Linked DNA regions of Homo sapiens. The main gene of each other region encodes a partner of the protein of the gene in region 2 in a complex. Each region holds a gene or a part of one and is shown on either strand. Other genes may lie near its edges.

What was found. The genes of interacting proteins can lie anywhere in the genome.
Region 1: the proteins of NCS1 (region 2) and NMT1 are in contact, whole or in part, in a crystal structure (PDB 5O9S), measured with the Homo sapiens proteins. Residues at the interface, in NP_055101.2 of Homo sapiens: Gly2, Lys3, Ser4, Asn5, Ser6, Lys7, Leu8, Lys9; in NP_066565.1 of Homo sapiens: Tyr180, Val181, Glu182, Asp183, Asp184, Asp185, Met187, Phe188, Arg189, Phe190, Tyr192, Asn246, Thr282, Ala283, Gly284, Arg295, Tyr296, His298, Ser300, Lys310, Phe311, Ser312, Tyr401, Leu403, Ser405, Tyr420, Gly468, Ile469, Gly470, Asp471.

What each region holds. Positions count from the first base shown.
Region 1 is NC_000017.11:45,106,089-45,109,516, reverse strand, and holds the end of NMT1 (glycylpeptide N-tetradecanoyltransferase 1), read right to left. Parts: 3' UTR 501-3,428; downstream 1-500.
Region 2 is NC_000009.12:130,174,609-130,183,344, reverse strand, and holds part of NCS1 (neuronal calcium sensor 1), read right to left. Parts: intron 1-8,736. UniProt on the Homo sapiens protein: Neuronal calcium sensor, regulator of G protein-coupled receptor phosphorylation in a calcium dependent manner. Directly regulates GRK1 (RHOK), but not GRK2 to GRK5. Can substitute for calmodulin. Stimulates PI4KB kinase activity.

The sequences.
Region 1 (3,428 bases), on a different chromosome or scaffold from region 2:
GGAAGTCTTAAACACAGCTACTGGGGCCCAGCAACTTGCCATGTTAAAATGCACCCCTAGTGACTCAAAGAACCACCCGGCCAGTGGTGCAGGAGGAGAGATGTGGCACCTGGGCACAGTGGGAAGGCACGGGGCCTGCACCTCCACCAGAGGAGCCACTGCTGACCTGGACCAAGGGGGCTGCTCTGTGCCCAGCTAGGGAAGCCTGGGCCGGCTCCTGTGCTGAGGTGCTCAGGTGCTGGCTGAGAGCCCAGTTGCTGCTCTAACTTGGAGTGAACCTGGGTCAATAGCAGCTCGTCTCTGGCGGGTGGGAAGGGTCTGACAACACCAAGTTTGCCCTGGAAGAAGGGCAGCCTTAAAGGAAGGCCTTTGGAAGCTGGCCTGGTGCTGTGGGCTTGAGGGACTTTGTGTCCAAGCCCTGTCGTCCTGGCTCCAGCCTAGGCTCCAGCACTCCATTTCTTCCACTGCCACCTGCTGACCAGGAATACCAGGACAGAAGGTTTTGTTCAGCTGCTTTCTTTATTAGAAACAAGTGAGATGTATTGAGCAGAACAACAATGCATTTGGTATTTCCTCCCCGACCCTGGAAATGGATGCCCCCCCACAGCCCAAAGAAAAGCCAAGACAAAAAGGTGAAGCTCCCCCGTCCCTGTTCCCAGACATGGCACCTGCCTGCCAGCCAGTCAGTATTTTTTAATTTAATGGAATGAAATTGTCCTCAACAGCCTCCGTAGGTGTAGTCGGCTTGCAGGCCCGCCTTCATTTTGCAGCAGAGTAAAACTGAAGCCTCAGGCCTCCCCTGGTTCTGGGGAAGGTGGGCCAGGCCATCAGAAGGCTGCCTCACAGGTGGGTAGGCACTGACGGGAGGGACACTCCTGCTCCCTCCCCTGATCTAACATCTGGTTCCCCTCCTTCTCCTAGAGTGCAGCTCCATGCAGTTGTCCAAGGCCTTTGGGCCCTTAGGTTGGTTAAATGCTGGTCGTCTTTGGGGAAAGAATTCAGGACCACAGGGACTCCCCTAGGCTTCTGAGAGCCAGCAAGTAGGGGGGCGACAGCAGTTAGACAGGAGTTGTGGGGAAGGCCTGACATTTTCCATAAACCTGGTGTTAAAGTAGCTGGGTGTGGGCTGGCCTTCAAATAAGACAGAAGCCTCTTCAGAAATAGGCATGTGTGGGGAAACGAGCCCTATACAGGCCTCGATCCGGAGTGGAGGCCTCCTACTCAGCTCTCTCCCTACACACAGACTGGAGTCCGTGGTCAAATGCAGAGTCAATCCAAAGGCAGGAGGTAAAGGTCGTCTTTGAAACATGGCAGCTGGGAGGACTGGGTGGCAGAGGGTGGGGGCCAGGCCCAGGGAGGCCTTCCAACAGCAGTTGCTCGAGGACGGTTAGCGTGAAGGCCTCAGGGTCCTTCCTTTGCTTGGTTTGAGACAGCCATGGCGCTACCACACTGCAGGGCTCCTGTGGGGAGGCCCTGACCCCCGGGATGGTGCTCTCTGAGCTGAAGTCCCAGAAGGGGTTGAATGAAGAACGCAGGGACTACTGGGACAAAAATCAGATGAGCAGCAAGCAGCCCACAAGCCAAACCCTGCACACCTGGGCAGAGTTCTCACCGCAACATAAAGCAGAGTCCGAGGAGCCGGCCACCTGGTTTCAGTGAGGGAGATGCTGGGGCCTTTGCCAGGAGATCTGTTTCTTCCAGAACAGCCACTGGGGCCTCACCGTTTCCATTCCATGACCTGGGTCAACCGAAACAGAGCTCACTCCAGAGATCCGCACAGCCCAAATCTCAGAGGCAGCTCAAGCTGGGACCTGGCCCAGAACAGATCAAGACTAGGACAGGGAGCCTTTCCAAGTTCCAGGTTCCCCCAAGGTAGGAAAGACTTGGGCACTTTGTCCTTTGATATCCTCAAAGGTCTGGACAGGGTGAGCCACTCTGGGGCTTGAGGCACTGTGCAACTGTTGTCTGTGGGGCTGCAAAGCAAGCCCCTGCCTCTCCGACTCCTCCCACCTGTGGAATGCAGTGCGCATCTTGCTAAGAACAGCAGCTTCTTTGGTCTCAGTTTCTTGGAGTCAAGGAGCAAACGTCAGTCACGATTGCTGGGGCCTGCAATTTGCAGCGCAGGAACAATGGGAAAAGGGAGGGCCCTGCAGGCCCCTGATGAAAATCCACCTTAGTGGAGTTGCTGGCTCTAGCAGCAGTCTGCAGAGCGGGCAGCATTCCCACGGGTGGCACGGCCCCCATCCCAAGCATACGATGTCTTCTGGTTTTGGAAACTCTGCAGAATTAGCCTCTGACAAACCACACCAAAACCCACAGCCTGCAACAAGCCCCTGCTGGCCTGTAGAAAGTGGCTTCGGTGAGTGGCACAGGGCTGAGCCTGGCCTCCTGGCTAAGGCTTCATTCCTGTATGAGCGGAGAGGTGACGGCAGCAAGGAAACCCGCACACCACACGTCATGCTACCTCCTTCCCACCACTTGCTTCTCTCTAGAGCAAAAATTACATCCAAGCCTGGAAGTACAATTTCACAGCCCAATTTTGCCCGGTCACTTGGCTGAACACCACTCCAGAATGCCTACATCGACAGCCATGTGACCAGAGGCTTGATTACGTTTTGGGAAACTGGCAGCACTGACAACCATCACTACCACAAAAATCCACAAAACAGCATCAGCGAAAATCAGACTCAGACAATGGAGATGGGAAACCACTTCTGTTGCCAAGTCCAGATCTGCCTCTAATCACTTCTTGCTACCACTTGCAGGCTGTATCTTGGAAAGGGGCACAACAAGAAATGGCTAATGGGTTGGAAGGCACAGGCCAGGGGCTGGTGGCTGAAGGGGTCTGGGTATTGGCCCCACGCCACTCCTGCCTAGCCACCCCAGGGACATCAGGGTGCTGGCTCTTTGCTCTAAGATGAGCTAAGCAGGGCTTACACTGATAATGGTCTCCAAAGGTCCCTGATGTTACAAGGAGGTCCAAGGGCCTCTTCAAACTGCATCATCCCAGGCAGTGGAAAAGCAAAATCTCACAGGGGACTCATCCCTATAAGGTTGGCAACAACTGGCTAAAGAGCCCTTTTAAATCAGTTGGCAGGATGACTTCCTACAGGGAGCAGGCCAAGGGGATGGAAGAAAGGACTCAATCAATGAGGTCTGCTTCTGCGGACCGTCCATTGCTTTGTCTCAGAATGCAGGCAGGTCTGGCCCTGCAGGAAAGTCCCTGCCCAGGGTCAGCCCCAGCCAAGAGCTCCACGTGCTATCCCATGAGATCTGAGCCTGTTCCATCTTCCCTTCCTTCTCAAAGCCAGTCATCCCAGCTGATTCAGAAGGGGAGCTGGATGAGGTTCTCCAGATCCTCTTTTTCCCCATGATAAGCCAATGTCTCCTCTGGAGGAAACCATGAACTGTGCCAACGCGTCTGTCTG
Region 2 (8,736 bases):
TGCCCTGCACCCCTCCTGGGCAAGGAGCTCCCCCCCCCAGCCGCATGGTCAGGGCACCCGGAGCTGAGAAATGGTGACATCGCATCTCACAGAGAGTGGAACAGATGGAGAGACTGCGGCCCTGAGAGGGGCAGCCAGAGGCCACAGCAAGCCAGGCTGGAACCAGGACCCAACTCTCAACTCCCTGGCTGTCCCCCTTCCCCGACAGACTGTAGGTCAGGAGCACAGGCAGGTCCTGTCCTGGTCACCAGGGAGAGCAAACCACAGCACTGCAGGGAAAAACTCTTCGGAAAGATCCCAGCCTTCTGCAGAGGCGAGGACACCCCGGGCCACACACCCCACAGACACCAAAGACCACAAGATGTGGCCCAGACCTCAAGGAGCTAAAAGTCACGGGGGTCCCCTTGGCCACCATGCCCCCAAAACCCACACTGCACCTGTGAGGACTTGGTCTCTTTCTCTGTCGGACAGATACCTCCGAAGGCACCTGGGCTGAGCCAGGCACAGGGCAGGGCAGGATGGCCAGGGGCACTCAGTCCTCACCACCTTGTCCGTGACAAGGCTTCCCAGGAGCAGGGGTGGTGCCAGCACCGTAAGATGGCGGTACGTTGCTCCTAAGTTCCCAGGGCGGGAGGATGACCATTGAGATCAGCCCAGCGCCCACACACGGTCAGCACCTGCTGAGCCTCCACTGGGGTGGGTGGAGGCTGAGGAAGCCGTTGAGGCCAGGGCACAGCTGCGCCACACACTCCTATCAGCGCCTCTCCTCCTGCCGCCTTTCCACAAGGCCTCAACTCTGCCTCCTTCCTGGAGGAAGGCAAGGCGGAGGCTGCCCCAAATCTCCTGCAGGAGGCAGAACCTCTGGAACCAGCGGGAAGGATCCTATCTGCCACCAACCTCACACCCAGCCCAGGAGTCCGGGATGCCTGGCCAGTGTCTGATGCTCCAGCAGCGGCTTGGATGCTCCCAGGGACTGGGCGCTCCCTCCCCTTGGCAGGGAACTCCAAGGTTTTGAGGCTCACAGAGACGGTGGGAGGCAGGCGCCGGGTGGGAAGGGCGTGGCTCTGGCAACATAAAGATCTAAGCCTGAACCCCGACTGGCCATCGATTGGCTGGCTGGGGGGACTTGGGCGTGTCCCTGAACTTGCCTGGGCCTCCCTTTCCTCATCTGTAAAATGGGTATAAGGGTCCCTACTCCCAGGGCTTTGGGGAGAGGGCAGCACTCAGCACTCCTGGTCCCGAGTGCCCACTGGGTAAACGGTGGTCGTCATTGCTGTCATCTCCCCCCAACCACAATACTCCCCTACTGCCTTGGGGAGTGGCAGCTTATCACCTGGTTCCAGACCTGGCAGCTGAGCTCCCAGCCTTTGGCGCGGCTCCCGGCCTGTCTGTGCCTCCCTCCCCAGCGTCCCCCACCCCCAGGCACACCTACATTTACAACCTGTACAGAGCTGCCCTCACACACCACCACACGCGTGCGCACAGGAGTGCCCGGCTCACCCACTCCTGACACACGCCATGACCCCGTCACTCACGCTCGGAGCGTGCCCACGTGAATCGGGACTTGCCCACGTGCCCCGCAGCACCCGCCCTGCCTGCAACACCCACACCAGGCACCCGGGCCCGCTCACGCTCACCTGCACACCTCCATGGCGGCTCCCTGGCACCTCCACCAAGCAGGGGCCCCTCACCGCGGCCCAGGGCTTCAGTGTGCAGACTCCAGGCTGAGAGGGGACGGGGATCAGACCCCAATGGCACCACTCTCCAGCCGTGGGACCATGAGCCAGCTCTCATCCACTCTGAGCCTCCATTTCCTCATCTGTAAAAAGGGGACCCCCACAGGGCTCCTGGGTGGAATTGGTGAGGAACACACGTGAACACCAAGGACAGGCCTGGGTCACACGGAACATGCCTAATACCAGATTCTCACCGCAGTGACAGCCCCTGACCGTCCCGTGCTGCAGCTCGCAGATCCTCCACCACCACCAGGAGCAAAAGGAGGGCCGAGATGAGCCGCCAAGTTCAACGTCTGTTATTCCTAACCCCGCACACGGCTCTGTGTAGTAGAAGTCCCTTATCCCCAACCCCCAGATAAGAAAACTAAGGTATCGAGAGGCTAAGAACCATGCCTGAGGCTGAGAAGATCCAAGGGCCTGGGTCTTGAACACCACAGCCCAAGCACACTCCGTCCCTGGGGCCCTGACGTACCTTCCCCACTGGGTCTCACTATCTGGGAATTTGAACATGGTACAGAAAGGGAAACTGAGTCCCAGAGGGAACTAGTGACTCCAAAGCCACTGTCCAGGCCATGATGGTCCTGGGACTTAATCCCAGGCAGGCTGCTGTCCATCCTCTGAGCCCCTGGGCGCACAGGAGCCTAAAAGCCAGCCTGCCACAACCCTTCTCCCTCCCCAACTCACCAAGCCAGGAGCCAGACACAGAACAATCCGGCCACCAACCCAGCCGGGCCACCACAGAGGCCCTCCATGTTTGCCACTCGCTCCCAATTCAGCCAAGAGCCTGTGACAGCTCACTCTGTGATTGCCCAGGGGAGTGGCCAAGAACGGCTGTCCCTGATACAGCCGGTCCAGCAGCCTCCTTCCTGGGAGAGCATTTACTGAGCACCTACTACGTGCAGATCCCTGTGCAAACATCCCTGTCTCATGCGCAAGGGACCTCAGAGCTCAGAGACGTAAGGAGCTGGCCAGGATTGCCCAGCCAGGAAACAGCAGAACTGACCTTCAAGTCCTCAGCACCTGCCGTTCTGCCCTTGGTCAGAATATGACCCCAATCTCAAGTTACCTAGAAACGCCGCAACGTAATCTCTGACACTCTCTGCCCTGCAAAATAGATCACACACAGAATGTGAAAATTGATTCATCTTGTTATGACCATAATGATGATGTGCTTTTTAATTTATATTGGCTTTTTTTCTTACCAGAGTGCTAGAGATATCTGGGGCAAGATGAACCCCAGCAGAAGACCTCAGTGAAGAAGTCAAGACATCCCTAGGCCAGGCGTGGTGGCTCACGCCTGTAATCCCAGCACTTTGGGAGGCCAAGGTGGGTGCACCACTTGAGGCTAGGAGTTTGAGACCAACCTGGCCAAAATGGCAAGACCCCATCTCCACTAAAAATACAAAAATTAGCCAGGTGTGGTGGTGCACATTCTAATACGAGCTACTCAGGAGGCTGAGGCAGGAGAACAGCTTGAACCCGGGAGGTGGCGATTATAGTGAGCCGAGATCGCGCCACTGCACTCTAGCCTGGGTGACGGAAGTGAGATTCCATCTCGATAGATAGATAGATAGATAGATAGATAGATAGATAGATAGATAGATAGATAGATAAAAAGAAGGCAAGACATCCCTATCTGAACCCCAACAGCCAACTCACCTTGGCACAGTGGGAGGTGCCCTGACAGGAACAAAGCAGTTCCTGCCACATATTTGCTGTGTGACCTTGGGGAAGATGCTTCACCTTTCTGGCGCTTAATTTGCCTACTTGTAAAATGAGGGCATTGAACTACTTGGCCCCAAGAGTCTCCTCCAGCTGAAAGATACTAGGATTCTATTTCATAGTATTCAAAGAAATAAATGTTGACACAGTGAGCCACCTCTTTTCCTCCCCATAAAATTGGCAAGAAGTAAGGAAAACAGTAATACCCAGTGCTGGCAAGAATGCAGAGAAATAGGCACTCTCTCATCTACTTTTGCTGAAAATGTAAACTGGAACAGCCTTTCTGGAGAGCAATTCAACAATTTTTAATCAAAAGCCTTTCAAAACATCCCCAGCCTTTTAACTCCATAACCCCGTTCTGGGTTCTTATCTTCAAGAAAAGATAAGTGCAAAGATTTAGTGCAAAGACATTCATGCAAAGATGTGGTACAAAGATGTTCATCTCAGTATTTTCAATATGGGAGGAGGAAGCTAACTGTCCAATGACAGGAGATTAAATAAAATATGTTCTGTCCATATGATGCACCATGAAAAAAAATCATGCTCTAAAAGCATAGTTCATGATACGGGCAAACATTCAGAATGGTCAGGTTTTTTTAAGTCAGAAAATAAAAAGTAGATAATCCCAAATTTACAAGGTAATGAAAACTATGAGTCCAGGGACAGCGGCTCATGCCTGTAATCCCAGCACTTTGGGAGGCCAAGGTGAGTGAATCACCTGAGGTCAGGAGTTCGAGACCAGCCTGACCAATATGGTGAAACCCCGTCTCTACTAAAAATACAAAAATTAGCTGGGAGTGGTGGCGGATGCCTGTAATCCCCTACTCGGGAGGCTGAGACAGGAGATTTGCTTGAACCCGGGAGGTGGAGATTGCAGTAAGCCAAGATCGTGCCACCGTACTCCAGCCTGGGTGACAGAGTAAGACTCTGTTTCAAAAAAAAAAAGAGGAGGGAAGGGGAGGGAAGGGGAGGGAAGGGGAGGGGAGGGCAGGGGAGGGGAAAGAAGGGAGGGGAGGGGAGGGGAGGGGAGGGGAGGGGAGGGGAGGGGAGGGAAACCAAGTCCTACTGAGTCTTCCTCCTAAATATATCTGGAATCTGTCTTTCATGTCATCCCCACCGATACTCCAGTTCATCACCATGATCACCTTCGGTCTCATTACCACCCCTCTTCCCCGCCAGTCCATTCCGGGACTGCAGCCAACAACAATTTTTCTAAACCCAAATCTAATGTGTCTCCATCACCTCCCTTCCACGGCTCCCTACGGATCTCGAATAATGTCCAAATTCCTTCCTGTGGCCTCTCAGAGGGTGACATGGGCCCGGCCCACTCGACAGGACACCACCCCCCTCCACTGCCCATGCCTTGCCCCAAAGGGGTTTAAGACAGGCCTTGGGAGCAGCAGGAGCTGGGTCCGATCCCAAGGCCTCTGCCGGGGAAAAGGGCTTTCCCCTGACACGGGGTGATGGGAGAATTCTGTGGGGTGATGTAGGGAAGGGAGAAGCTGGGTCCCATTTAACCTGGAGCCCAAGGAGGCAGAAAGGGCAAAAAGAGCCTGTGAGGAGGAGGCTGGGCTCTGGGGCCTGGGTGAGTCCCTGCCATTCACCAGCTGCCCCTTCCCTCTCTGTACAAGGGGGTGGCCACAGGCCACCTGCCCTGGATGCGGAAGACTTGCACCCCAAGGACCAGCTGCTGCCAGGAAAGTTTTGAAAGGTTCCCCTCATGGCCAGGCGCAGCAGCTCATGCCTGTAATCCCAACACTTCAGGAGGCCGAGATGGGAGGAGATCACTTGAGGCCAGGAGTTCGAGACTAGCCTGGCCAACATAGCGAGATCCCATCTCTATAGAAATAAAAATATAAATAAATAAAGGTTCCCCTCAGAACCAGGCACCAAGCTAAACCCTTCATATGCCCCGAATCCTCCTCAACACTGAGGCCTTCCAAAACTGCCCATTTTCCAGAGGCGGAAAGTGAAGCCGGTGAGAGGAGGTTTGCCCAAGGAAGGGGCCAGAACCGCAGAACTCGCCCCTGAGCCCTCCTTCCCTCCCAGGGACTCTCCTGCCAAACAACCCCTTTGTCTTTCTGGCCCGCTCCCCGGACTGCAAAGCTTCTCCTGTTTAGATCCATGGAGTTGGAAGGCAGGTCTGAAGGATGAGCAAGCTGGTGCTCAGAGAGGCCAAGGGACTTCCCCAAGGTCACCAAGGCCGAGTGAGGACCCAGCCCCGCACCGCAGGGGATCGAGTCCTCTCCTAATAACACAGGTGATGTTTCTTGCCCAGATGCCCATCCCGATGCCGAGAGTCCACCTCAGTCTCTCCTGCTGCTGCTCTGCTCCACTGTCAGAGAAAGGAAAGGCCTCCTTGGTTCATGCCCACGCACACGGGATGTACAGGGACGGCCGAAGCCCCTCCCTTGCTTTGGTCCTTTCCTCTCCTTGTGGCTCACCCTGTGCCTGGCTGTGGGCCCTCCATGTCCCCACGCAGCCATCACACAACCCCCAGCTTTGTCCCAAGATGGTCTCCAGTGACTGCCTCCTGAAGGCAGCAGCTTGGCCCACCCTGGTTGAGCAGAGTTGGGTGGGGAGTGATGATCAGAGAATATTCCTCACCCTAGAGGAAGGGGCCCTCATGGGCCCCAGGACAGTCCACAACCAGAGACACCCAAGAACCCAACTGCTGACCCCAACCTGGAGCCAGGGACCCGTCCTCTGCTCGGGGTCACAGAGGCGTCAGCCGTGGGCTCCTGCCCTCCACCTGCTCCTGTGTGCCGGCACCATTCTGGGCATTAGGGAAAAGGCAGAGGAGAGTCAAGGTTGGCAGGCAAGGTCAAGGCAGAGCCTGGGCTGACCAAAGGCAACAGGGAGGAGGTGGCCACCCCTGAGTCCCAGACCGAGGGTCCCTGGGAAGGACCGCAAACATCATGGGGAGGAGAAGGAGAAGGGAGGAGGGCAGAGGTTGTGCCTCTTGGGCCTGGCTGGCTTGGGCCTGCAGTGGCCTCAGAAGCCTTTAAGGGGATGCAGCTCAGACCACCACAAATGGCTTGCACCCCCATGCTGGAGTTTTCGGATAACCCGGCTGCTTTCCTCCTGAGGCCAGGGATTCCATCTCTCTGGTCCACTCCTCTGTCTCCATGCCTGGCACACAGTGAGCACTTAATGAACAGGCCAGGGCAGCTTCACAATTCACAAGTGGGGCTGCGGAGGCCGCTACACGTAAGAGCAGGCCCCTGCTGGGATTCAGGCACAGCAGTCATAGATGTCACCTTCTGTGTGCCAGGCACAAAGACCAGAGTCAGCAAGATTCCTCTGTGGAGAGAAGAAATTTGCCCACAAAATACACATAAGCCCAGTTCAAGATGAAGCTGTATTGTATGGTCAAAATGATATATATTAAGGCCGGGTGCGGTGGCTCAGGCCTGTGATCCCAGAACTTTGGGAAGCCAAGGCAGGAGGATTGCTTGAGGCCAAGAGTTTGAGACCAGCCCAGGCAAAAGGGCAAGACCCTAACTCTACAAAAAAAATGTTTTTAATTAGCCAGGTGTGGTGTTGTACACCCATGGTCCCAGCTACTGGGGAGGCTGAGGCAGGAGGATTGCTTGGACCCAGGAGGTCAAGGTTTAAGTGAGCCATGATTGCACCATTGCACTCCAGTCAGGGCAACACAGCCAGACCCTGTCTCCAAAAAAAAAAAAAAAGAAAGAAAGAAAGAAAGAAAGAAAGAAAGAAAGAAAGAAAGAAAGAAAGAAAGAAAATGAACAAATAAGCATTAATTACGATCACTGGCATTTACTGACCACATACCCCACGCCACATATCAGGCCCCACACTGCACATGAGTTACCCTGTTGACTTCTCACATCCTCTGAGTTCAGGTGCCATGAGCACACCTATTTTGCAGATGAGGAAACTGAGGCTCAGGTAGGTGAGGGGACCGGCCCATCCCACAGCCGGGACACACGGGGAAGCCAACAGCCTCACCAGCAGGTTGGAAGAGAGTGGGCCAGACCTGAAAGAAACTGGGCCGCCCGCAATGCTGACTGCCACTGTCTAAGTCTTGGCTGCAGAGTGACCCTGTCCATCTCTCCCTAACCTGTTGCTGGTGGAAGGCTGAGGACTGGGTTAGGGTTTGAGCCAGGTGGAATCCCAGTGTGTCCAGTGAGGGCCACACTGCTGGGGCCTTTAGACACTCCTGCTTCCTCACACACACAGACCACCACAGACAGAGCCAGAGACGCCCACCAAGGACACTGCCCAGCACCGACTCGGACGTGGACCCATGGCTCCCCTCTAGGCCCCCTTGGCACTGTGGCCAGCTATGCATGAGGTGGGCTAGGACCCCCAGCATACACTGGAACTGTGGTCTTCAATCCGGGCTCCCCAGGACCACCATCTGCAGCACAAACACGTGTCAAGGATGCAAATTCCTGGGCCCCAGCCAGACCTAAAGAATCGGAAATCCGGGAGGGCAGCCCAGGTACCTTCATGTTTATTAATCAACCAGGAGATTCTGACATTTGAGAGTCCTTCCTGGGGCGCTTCTCTTGACCCCATACACAGAATCCCCCAGAACAAAGAGCAGATGGCTCCACTCCCCATCAGAAGGAAGCCCATCTGGGGGCGGGAGAACAAGCTGGAAGCTTTCTCTGCTTGTCCTGTTGGGAGACTTTTCATTCTGTGAACCTACTAAAGGCCAACACATGGGGGGAACACAGCTGTGAGCTCCACACACAAGGGCCTGCACTAGGGAGCTGACGTCAGCGCGGGAGGCAGACAGGAGGCCAATGAACCCACCGCCACCTCCAACGGCCCACCCCTAATAAGGGCTTCGACAGAGGAAAAGTACCCAGGCCAACTCTCTCTCTGCCCAAAACTGTTCCACGTCTCCAAAGGCCTTTAAAAATAGCCCAGCCCAGCACCACAAGGGCCAGTTCCTAACAAAGCTTTGTTGACTCAACTTCTCTTAAAGTTGACAGATCTGCCCGGAGGAGGGGGCCGGACAGGACTATCACCCCAGGCCCTTCCCATTTAGAATCCACCATCATGGGCTTCTAGCAAAAGCCAGAAAAAGACACCCAGCAGAGCTTTTTTTTTTTTTTTTTGGAGACAGAGTTTCCCTCTTGGAGCAATCTCACCTCACCGCAACCTCCGCCTCCCAGGTTCAAGCGATTCTCCTGCCTCAGCCTCCCGAGTAGCTGGGATTACAGGCATGTGCCACCATGCCCAGCTAATTTTGTATTTTTAGTAGAGATGGGGGTTTCTCCACGTTGGTCAGGCTGGTCCA